Homo sapiens: one gene and its partners. The protein of the gene in region 2 interacts with the protein of the main gene of each other region in a pairwise test. Each region holds a gene or a part of one and is shown on either strand. Other genes may lie near its edges.

Region 1 (3,755 bases), on a different chromosome or scaffold from region 2:
GGAGGTGAGAAAGGAATGGGGCGGGGAGGTGATTCAGGTGGCTGTCAGAGGGTTTCCTGAAGGATGTAATAGTAAGAAAATATCGACGAAAAGAAAGTGGAGGCTGGGCGTCGTGGCTCACGCCTGTAATCCCAGCACTTTGGGAGGCCGAGACAGGTGGATCACTTGAGGTCAAGAGTTCAAGACCAGCCTGATCAACATGATAAAACCCCGTCTCTACTAAAAATACAAAAATTAGCTAGGCGTTGTGGTGAGTGCCTGTAATCCCAGCTACTGGGAAGGCTGAGGCAGGAGAATTGCATGAACCCAGGAGGTGGAGGTTGCAGTGAGCCAAGATTGTACCACTGCACTCCAGCCTGGGCAACAGAGGAAGAATCTGTCAAAAGAAAAGAAAAGAAAAGAAAAAGGAAAGAGGGAAAAGGCATTAGAGCATTTTAGCTAGGAGTACAGTACGAATAAAGGTGAAAACCATATGATATGAGTATAAAGTTGTTTAGAGCCTCTTTTTAAAAATTACACCTGTAAAATATTTCACTAGGTTTATGCAGCATCATTTATTGCCCACTTCCTGATTACACAGGTTGTTTGATTTCTTAGTGCTATAAACAGTGTTGTAGTGAACATCTTTGTACACGGCTTTCCTCTCACATTTCTAATTGTTTCCTGTTCCTGTAATATGCAACAGCTTTTCCGTCTGATTACAAAGGTAATAATGCAAAAAATTCACAGAAGTATAACAAAGGAGGGAAAAATTACTTTAAATTCAGAGGTATTTTGGTATATTCTTTGAAAATTTTCCTAGTGTACACACCATATTTTTAAATGATATATATATATATATTTATTTATTTATTTTTTGAGACAGAGTCTTGCTCTGTTGCCCAGGCTGGAGTGCAGCAGCACAGTCTCACCTCACTGCAACCTCCACCTCCTGGGATCATGCGATTCTCCCGTCTCAATCTCCTGAGTAGCTGGGATTACAGCCACCTGCCACCACACCCGGCTACTTTTTGTATTTAGTACAGATGGGGTTTCACCATGTTGGCCAGGCTGGCCTCGAACTCCTGACGTCAAGTGATCTGCCCACCATGGCCTTCCAAAGTGCTGGGATTACAGGCATAAGCCACTGCGCCCGGCCTTAAATCATATTTTTAAAAATAAATAAATAAATAAAATGTGTAACCTATTTTTCTTCCCTGTAGCTATTCTCTTTCACCTTCTTTTTTGGCCTTCGTGGTTATGCATTTGTGTTTTTGAAGTTACACTTGCATAAAGTTTAAAAAGTCAAACCATTCTATATGATTAGTACAAAAAAAGGGCATTCCCATGCTCACCTCTTCCAATTTCCTCCTCCTCAAAAACATTTGCTATTTTGACCATTTTGATATCTACCTCCATATTTCTAAATAATACGCTTTGCAGCTGGGTGCAGGGGTCACACCTGTAATCCCAGCACTTTGGGAGGCTGAGGAGGGAGGATCCCTTGAGCCCAGGGGTTTGAGACTAGCTTGGGCAACATAGGGAGACTCTGTCTCTACTTTAAAAAAAAAAAAAATAATAATAATAATATGCTTCTGCCAGGCATGGTGGCTCACGCCTGTAATCCCAGCACTTTGGGAGGCCGAGATGGGAGGATTGCTTGAGCTCAGGAGTTTGAGACCAGCATGGGCAACCTAGTGAGACTCCCATCTCTACTTGAAACTTCTTAAAAAAAATTAGCTGTGTGTGGTGGCACACACCTGTAGTCCCAGCTACTGAGGAGACTGAAATAGGGGGATTGCTTGAGCCTGGGGGTTCGTGGCTGCAGTGAGCTGTGATGTACCCCAGCCTGGACAACAAAGTGAGGAAAGAAAGAAAGAAAGAAAAGGAAGGAAGGAAGGAAGGAAATGCTTGTTTTGTTACTTCTTGCTTTTTCAGTTTTGAGGACTATTAACTTTCTACTACAGAAAAAGATTTAGTTCTCTTTCCTCCCCGTTACCCCCACCACATACTTATACCCAGCTTTCCAATATAATTACATCATAACTTCATTTAGATCAATATGAGATTTTATATTATGAATTTGTAAGTGCAATTTAAAGCTAAGCCAAGTAGTGAGGTATCACTGGTTTTCTCTTCCTGTACTATTTTTGTTTTTTCTGGAATTACTGTCTTATTTTTTCCCTTTGTTCGGTTTTCAACGTACTTATTGATCCAACCTTAAATCAATTGCCTAAATTTCCTCTCAAAGAGGTCAGGTATACTATCAATTTTATCTTCTGGAAGAATTCTCTCTCAGAGCCTTGTGTGGACTTCCTTCATCTGGTGTGCACGGCTATCATTCTGCAATTGCTTTCACTATCATCCTGGGAACTCCCATCACCTCAGTGTTGTGTTCCTATTTTCTGTATCAAGTGTCATCCTCATTTTTAGTTTGCTTTTGCTTTCTGTAGAGGACATAGGGACTGAGAAGGCCAAGGGATATAGTAGGTTTTCTTATCAACCACTTGGAAGGCTTCTGCTGTATTTTCAGGAGCTATTTTAATGACAGAGGGGAGAAAAGGTATGCCAGGCACATGTTACTGCTCAGAAGAAAGGGCAAAATGGCAGTAAGATGGGGCTTGGAATAAATAGGAGGCCAAGAAATAAGCAGAGTGTTCAGGCTGGGAACATGGGAGAAGAGAGACACATGTTGGCACCCAGGTCAAGTGCTCTAAAACATAGGATGAAAAATCAGAAATATAGTGAGTACTTGGGTTGTATGTGACTTGGTAGTTTTCTGATCCTGTGTTATAGTGTGAGGTAAATGTCTTCATGTATACTTAAATAAAATGATCTAAAGTAATCCTGGAGGTTTCTAAGTTATAATTTAGGGGGTACAGACATATTCATTGAGAGAATATTCAAAGCAGGGCCATAGTACTGTTTGTGAAGAAAGCTTTATCTAGTATTACCATGACTGATCATAGCAACAGTGGCTGTTTTGAGGGGTTGTGTATACCCCAGGCATTTTTTAAAGTTACTTTAGACATGTATCTCATTTAACTCTTACAACAGCCCTGTGAGGGTATTTTTAAATCCCTTTTACAAATGAGTTACCTAAAGCAACATTTAACTTTCCCAAAGTCACACAATGGAAGACCTGGGACTCAAATATGGGTCATCTTACTCCAAAGCCCGTGTTCCAAATTCACCCCTCAATAAAAAAAATCCTCATTAAGAATGTTTTCGTGGTTGAGCACTTTCTCAAGACAGTATCCAAACTGAAAAGCATGGCTGGAGTTGTGAGAATGAAATCTGATATTTTTACAGAGGAAGTCCTCTTAATGCCAGCCATGCCTATTTATAGCAAAAGATAGTTTCAAGGCTCTGTGACAGACACAGGTCTAGGTTTCCAGGGTGAAATGAATTCCAAACAAGGACAGACTGACCACAAATACTTATTTATCTGACAGCATTTGGTGCCTTTTCAAATACTGTCCAAGTCTCCCATAACATACTAGAGTAAAAACTCCCTGAGGGCAGGGATGTTGCTTATTCACTTTTATATTCTCAATGTCTAGCACAGTATCCTGCATAGTAGAATAGATATAAAATAAAATACTTCTCAGCAAGTTTTCTAGCTAGATATGTCTTTTTCTTTCCTTTGAATCTCGATAGCATTTTTTGAAAATTATCTTATGGCACTTATATCTTGTCTAATCTTTTATTTTTTATTTATTTTTAATTGACCTTCCAATGTAGGATTTTAATCTTTTATTATTTTTTAATCTAAT
Region 2 (3,755 bases):
AATACAATTTCTCTTATAACATGTTCTTTTGTATCCTTGTCATGAGCCAGAATCAAAGGTTGGGAAAGAGCACAGGCCTGTCCCAAGGCGAATTCCACACTATAAGAAGCATGATGATCACTTCAAATGTAATAAACCTGACCATCATATGTATATATATATATATGTTTAAATGCAGAGAACCAAGAAGAAAGAAATCAACTACAGTAGTACTTTTCAGGGAATTCATAAGCCTCAGGAGATAAACGGTCCATGATATGAAGCCTAGTAGGACAGGACAATTGTTCTTTTTATGACACAGCCCTTAATACTTAAAAACTCTAGGTTCTCACATTCTGAATTTACAGCTACTTTCCAAGCATGTATAGAGAGCTTGGGGCTGGATATCAAATACATTGAAACGCTGCCATCAACTTGTATAATTTTGGTCTTAACAGTGAACTTTCCCTGATAAATTTCCCAAACTGTATGTGTTGTCTCTTGCTAACATCCTTCCTCCTTAGGAGTGAGGGGTGAACCTCAGAATGAAGGTGACAGACAAAAACTTTGAAAAAGCATCCCAGGTACTTCTGGTATTTCCTGCTCCTGTCCCCCCTGCTCCTGTCCCAAAGAGAGCCATTGGTGATGGTCACAAAGAACAGTCCTGAACCTTTCATTCCATCTTCTTGGCTATTTGGGCCTTTTTAGGAATTTCCTTTTTAATATGTACAACCATTCCTTAGTTTGCTATGCTGTACTGATAAGCATCTTCTAGGGCAGAAGTATCCCATGGAATTTCTGAGATGTTAGAAATGTTCCACATCTGGGCTCTCCAACGTGGTCACTACCAGCTCTGTGAGTCTACTGAGCACTGAAAATGTGACTAGGAGTTTGAGACCAGCGGGGACAACATGGCGAAACCCAATCTCTACCAAAAATACAAAAAAGTTAGCCGGGCATGGTGGCACATGCCTTTGGTCCCAGCTACTTGGGAGGCTGAGGTGGGAGGATCACTTGAACCTGGGAGGTGGAGGCTGCAGTGAGCCGAGATCACACCACTGTATTCCAACCAGGATGACAGAGTGAGACCTCGTCTCCAAAAAAAAGAAAAAAAAATGTACGTGACTAATGAAACTGAGACACTAAATATTTAATTTTCTTTAATTTTGAAAAATGTAAATAGTCACACGTGGCTAGTGGTGACCATACTGCACAGTGAACCTCTCTATCATCTTTGTAAGTTGGCTTCGCAGGTTAGTATGACACTAAAATTCAGTGATGCCAAGAGCTATTCAGTTCGACACAGAGACACCACAGGTGTGGCCTCTTACCTGATCAGCTGCTTCAGGACATTGCATGATTGGGCCTCACTGGTAAAGAACTAAGAAAAGAGGTAGATGGCCAGAAGCAAACTTATCACTATTTTGGGACAAGGAATCCAGGTGACTAGCTTATGGACAGGGGCTCAGGGTATCATTTCCATACACAAAATACAGAAGTGTATTGTTTACCTTTTCTTCAAAATGATAATTCCTAGAATCATGTTGGCAATTAGAGAACCCTGCAAAAGGAGACAACAGTAACAGAGAGGTTTAGTGCACTAGGAAAAAAACAACGTAATTCGAGAGAATAGGAACATGGGCAAGGGGAAAAAACATGGAATGAAGGAAGCTAGGATGAATAATTAGTAAAGATTTAGTTGTTCTTATGATGGCAAAAGTATAAACCATAAAAATCTACTATGATGGCCGGGCGCGGTGGCTCACGCCCGTAATCCCAGCACTTTGAGAAGCCGAGGTGGGCGGATCACCTGAGGTCAGGAGCTTGAGACCAGCCCGGCCAACATGGTGAAACTCTGTCTCTACTAAAAAATACGAAACTTAGCTGGGCGTGGTGGCAGTTGCCTGTAATTCCAGCTACTTGGGAGGCTGAGGCAGGAGAATCCCTTGAACCCGGGAAGTGGAGGTTGCAGTGAGCCAAGATCGCGCCATTGCACCTCCAGCCTGGGCAACAAGAGCGAAACTCCGTCTCCAAAAATATACGTATATATATATATATTTAAAAAACCTTTTAAAGATGACAATGAGAATAAAAAGGATCAATTCTCAATATAGTCATTATCAGCCCTCCTTATAGGCATGTTTTGCATCCCGTGAATACTGTATTTTCATATTTGTTTGAAAAAAATTTGCATATTTGTGGACCCACGTGGTTTAAACCCATGTTGTTCAAGGGTCAACTGTAATTGCTCAGTGCTGAAGCCAGGGCTAGCACGAATAAATGATATCACAGACTTATTTTTGTCAAAATTTCCATCACCTAATTTATAAGAGCTTTTAATAAGTTTCTCCCCATTACCTGCACCTTCTACCCCCGACCAGTTTTTTCTTCCCTCAGACGGAGTTTTGCTCTTGTTGCCCAGGCTGGAGTGCAATGTTGCGATCTTGGCTCACCACAACCTCTGCCTCCCAGGTTCAAGCGATTCTCCTGCCTCAGCCTCCCGAGTAGCTGGGATTACAGGCGTGTGCCACCACGCCCAGCTAATTTTGTATTTTTAGTAGAGATGGGGTTTCCCATGTTGATCAGGCTGGTCTCGAACTCCCAACCTCAGGTGATCCACCCACCTCAGCCTCCCAAAGTGCTGGGATTACAGGCCTGAACCACTGTGCACAGCCCCTGACCAGTTTTAATGGAAAAAGTCATGCAAGGATCTCTCTGTTCTCTAAAAAGGTGACAATCAATCAACAGGTGTTTATTGAAAGTCCACTATGTTTTCAATGCTTTGAAGGTCACCTTATTATAATTGCTTTGGAAACTCCCTTCAGGAACAGTACAATCTCACAAAAATCTCAGACCACATGGAAATGTTATCACCACAATTATCAGCCTTTTTTGCCTGGAGTGCTTTGGGAGAAACCCTACCTTCATCAAGAATTTCCCTTTATTATCTCAAGTCTCTGCTTAAAAAAAAAAAAAAAAATCAGAAAAGACAAGTATCTCTTTCATGTTCTAGAAGTAAATGTACTTTTATGAAAGAAGAAGAGATAAGAAATAAGTTAAATAACATTAATAGCATGTTTGAATATAAAATCAAAGAGATGAGGGAAAATGAAGGTAAAATCTGTTTCCTAGGGAAAATTTAATTTTCTTTTTATTAATCACTCATTAGACCTCAGAAGAATAAAAGTAAACCATCCACTTTGAGATTTCTCTTTTTGCCTTCTCAGATGAAAGCCACCCTTGCTCACGCATTCACAAACCTATTCTTCTACCCAAGACCACTTACTACAAGAACCTTCTAGTTCTGCCATATATTCAATCGATCTACTTAACTATACTTTTCAGAGGAACATATACACGTGATCCGGCAGCACTTACGGATCTAAATATCATATGCAGGGGCATGGCAATGTTGAGATTCAGGGCATAGTTGTTCACCACGCTCACGGTGAAGAACATGGTCACCATTATGGCATAGTACCTGAAATGCAGACAGAACAGCTCATCAAACAGAATCTAGGATTTCAAGAAAATCAAGTATAGGAAATATATATTTTTGGCTAAAAAGGCATTTTGCCTGTTTCCTCTGCGTTGCAAGATTGCATCACTATTATGCCATGTCAACTACTAAGTACATATCAAAACGCTTCACAAAGCCAGACTAACATGGGAAAATCTAAGTTATAAAATACATTTAAAGAAACACTATTTAAAAATTTTCAAGTATACATAGCAACTTAAAATGATTGTATTGATTCTTTGTAAATAATTTTCAT
Region 3 (3,755 bases), on a different chromosome or scaffold from region 2:
ATTAGCTTTCACACTGCTATAAAAGAAATAAAAACATAAAATAAAAATACTACCCCAAACTGGGTAATTTATAAAAGAAATAAGTTTAATTGACTCACAGTTACGCATGACTAGGGAGGCCTCAGGAAACTTACAATTATGGTGGAAGGGGCACCTTTTTCACGAGGCAGGAGAGAAGAGTGAAGAGCAAAGCAGGAAGAGCCCATTTTAAAACCAGATCTCATGAGAACTCACTATCAGGAGAACAGCATGGGGGAGATTGCCTTGATGATTTAATCACCAACCACCAGGTTCCTCCCTTGACGTGGGGATTATGGGATTACAATTTGAGATGAGATTTGGATGGGGACACAGAGCCAAACCATATTAGTAGATACTTAATAATTATATAGTAAATATTTAATTTTTATAGTAATAATTATATAGTAAAAATTTGTTTAACAATGAGAAATTGATTTATTCTTTCAGAAAATGTTTAGTAAGCACTTAATAAAAATCAGAAGGGGGGGATTGATTGGGAAAGTACTACAAGAGCAAACTTTCTGGGGCAATGGAAATGTATTTTGTCTTAGGTGGTGTTTATAGGTCCATATAGTTACAAAACTCATCAAACTGAGCGCTTCACAAACACAAAGCTTGGCCAGGTGCGGTGGCTAATGCCTGTAATCTCAGCACTTTGGGAGGCTGAGGCAGGCAGATGGGAGTTTGAGACCAGCCTGGCCAACATGGTGAAACCCCATCTCTACTAAAAATATAAAAATTAGCAGGGCGTTTTGGCAGGCACCTGTAATCCTAGTGACTCAGAAGGCTGAGGCAGGAGAATCGCTTGAACCCGGGAGGCAGAGGTTGCAGTGAGCCAAGATCATGCCACTGCACTCCAGCTTGGGCGACAGAGCGAGACTCCATCTCAAAAACAAACAAACAAAAAGCACAAAGCTCAATAAACTGAACTGTAAATTAAACACTTCAAACAAAAGTAAGTTAAATAAATTGAGCCAGACGTTATATAGACACTGGGGACACAGATGATCAGACAAATAAGGTCCCTGCCCTTGTATCTCTCTTTTTCTTTTATTTTTTATTTTTTTTATTTTTTTGAGATAGAGTCTCTTCTCTGTCTCCCAGGCTGGAGTGCAGTGGTGAGATCTTACCTCACTGCCACCTCCACTTCCGGGATTTAAGTGATTCTCCTGCCTCAGCCTCCTGAGTAGCTGGGATTACAGGCGTGTGCCACCATGCCCAGCTAATTTTCTGTATTTTTAGTAGAGTTGGGATTTCACCATGTTGGCCAGGCTGGTCACGAACTCCTGACCTCAAGTGATCTGCCCACCTCAGCCTCCCTTAGTGCTGGAATTACAGGCGTAAGCCACCACGCCCAGCCCCCTTGTATCTCTTATATTGTGAGTGGGGAACATGATAGGTAGATGCAGCCATTAAAATTTATGTTTCCAACTGATATTAAGGAGTTGGGGAAATAATATAATAATCTGACATACCATTAAGTGAAAAATGCAATATAGCCTTATTTTTTAAGCATTTACAGCCTATGTATTTACATACCAAAAAAGAGATACATTTACCAAATAAATACATAAATGTTATTTTTTATAATCCTAAGACAAAAATAAATAATATGCTGAATAAAATACATTATTTTATACAAAAATTTGCTTGGTGTGGTGGCGCACGTCCATAATCCCAGCTATTTGGGTGGCGGAGGCACAAGAATCACTTGAACCTGGGAGGCAGAGGTTGCAGTGAGCCAAGATCATGCCACTGCACATCAGCCTGGGTGACAGAGTGAGACTATCTCATTAAAAAAAAAATATATTTTAAATTATTTTATTTGGTCAGGCACGGTGGCTCACGCCTGTAATCCCAGCACTTTGAGAGGCCAAGGTGGGTGGATCACCTGAGGTCAGGAGCTTGAGACCAACCTGACCAACACGGTGAAACCCCATCTCTACTAAAATACAAAAATTAGCTGGGTGTGGTGGCGTGCGCCTATAATCCCAGCTACTCGGGAGGTCACTGAGGCACGAGAATCGCTTGAACCCGGGCAGTGGAGATTGCAGTGAGCTAACACGACACACACTCCAGCCTGGGAAACAGAGCGAGACGCTGTCTCAAAAAAAAAAAAAAAAAATTTTTTTTGCACATTATTTACAGTTAGTAATATTTTCCTTTCAAAGTATCTAAAATATCTGTAATAGCTGAACATATATCAAACAGATCTATAGAGACTAGCACATGTAAAATTTTTTTTAAGTTTCTTGTTTGATTCTTCTGTATTTTATCTTTCTTCATATAAAATCAGCCTTAATTGACAGAGAAATATTCTATGTACTCATTCATATGTGGGAACTAAAAAAGTTGATCTCATGGAGATAGTCAAATGGTAGTTACCAGAGGCCAGGAAGGGTAGGGAGGGAGAGAATGAAGAGAGGTTGGTTAATGGGCACTATAGTACGGTTATATAGAAAAAGTTCTAGTATTCAATAGCATAATAGGGTGACTATTGTTATCAGTAATTTTAGTGTATATTTCAAAATAGGAGAGAAAATTTGGAATGTTCTCAATATAAATAAATGATAAATGAGGTGACGAATATCCCAGTTACACTGAGTTGATCATTGCACATCATATGCATGTATGCATGTAGCAAAATATCACTTGTACCCCATAAATATGTACAGTTATTATGTATCAGTACAAAAACAGCCTGAATAAATGTACTTACAGTCATTTGAATTGAGCTTTTCAAGCTGTATTGCTTTCATGTATAAAGTTTTTCAGTAGTTAAATTGTAGTTGGTTATCTTTAAAAAGTAGATTATGTTAAGACTTTGGTAAGTTATTACTTTGTTGTAGGAGGTAATAGTACCTCTCATCACTGTATTTTTAAGCATAGTGTTTTACCAAGGAATTAAGTGTTCAAAAGAATATTTTCTGAAGTGGATTTTAAAACAGTAGTAATACCATTTGTTCTTGAGGTTTGTGGGTTAAGATAGGAAATGCTATATTTAAGAGTCTAACATTAAGGTTTTCAACCAGGCATGGTGGCTCACACCTGTAATCCCAGGACTTCGTGGGGCTGAGGCAGGCGGATCACTTGAGGTCAGGAGTTTGAGACCAGCCTGGCCAACATGGTGAAACCCCATCTCTACTAAAAATACAAAAATTAGCCAGACGTTGTGGTGTGCTCCTGCAGTTTTAGTTACTTGGGAGGCTGAGGCAGGAGGATAGCTTGTGCCCGGGAGGTGGAGGTGGTAGTGACCAAGAGCACACCACTGCACTCCAGCCTGGGCAATGGAAGTGAAACCCTGTCTCAAAAATAAATAAATAAGATTTTCATCTTTGCGTTCCCATTCACTCGCTTTTTGATAAATTTAAGCTCTTATGACTTCTAAAATATTGTAATATGTACAATAATACTTAATGTTATTCTACATTGAACAAACATTTAATGACTGCTATTTCGAGTTACATACTGGATGCTGGGGCCAATTGCAAGCTAAGATAATTAGTCAGATAAAACAGAAGGAACTCCATATGCAAAGAACTCAAAAAGGCTGCTTACTAGACAGTAGCTTTCGCTGGCCTCAGGTACATGAAGAGACCATGTTTGTGGAAGTTGAAGCTGGAAAGGTAGCCTTGCCATTCTTTGGAGATGGCACCTTATAGAGCCAATGATCTATAGTAGCATTGTCCAGTAAAACTTTGTGGTAATGGAAATGTTCTCTGTACTGTTCAATA

The links.
Region 1: the proteins of SLC35B4 (region 2) and STOM interact in binary tests that used the Homo sapiens proteins (3 or more experiments, as listed by UniProt).
Region 3: the proteins of SLC35B4 (region 2) and CISD2 interact in binary tests that used the Homo sapiens proteins (3 or more experiments, as listed by UniProt).

What each region holds. Positions count from the first base shown.
Region 1 is NC_000009.12:121,356,600-121,360,354, forward strand, and holds part of STOM (stomatin), read right to left. Parts: intron 1-3,755. UniProt on the Homo sapiens protein: Regulates ion channel activity and transmembrane ion transport. Regulates ASIC2 and ASIC3 channel activity.
Region 2 is NC_000007.14:134,303,315-134,307,069, forward strand, and holds part of SLC35B4 (nucleotide sugar transporter SLC35B4), read right to left. Parts: intron 3,461-3,755; coding exon 3,358-3,460; intron 1,541-3,357; coding exon 1,491-1,540; intron 1-1,490. UniProt on the Homo sapiens protein: Antiporter that transports nucleotide sugars across the endoplasmic reticulum (ER) membrane in exchange for another nucleotide sugar.
Region 3 is NC_000004.12:102,878,863-102,882,617, forward strand, and holds part of CISD2 (CDGSH iron-sulfur domain-containing protein 2), read left to right. Parts: intron 1-3,755. UniProt on the Homo sapiens protein: Regulator of autophagy that contributes to antagonize BECN1-mediated cellular autophagy at the endoplasmic reticulum.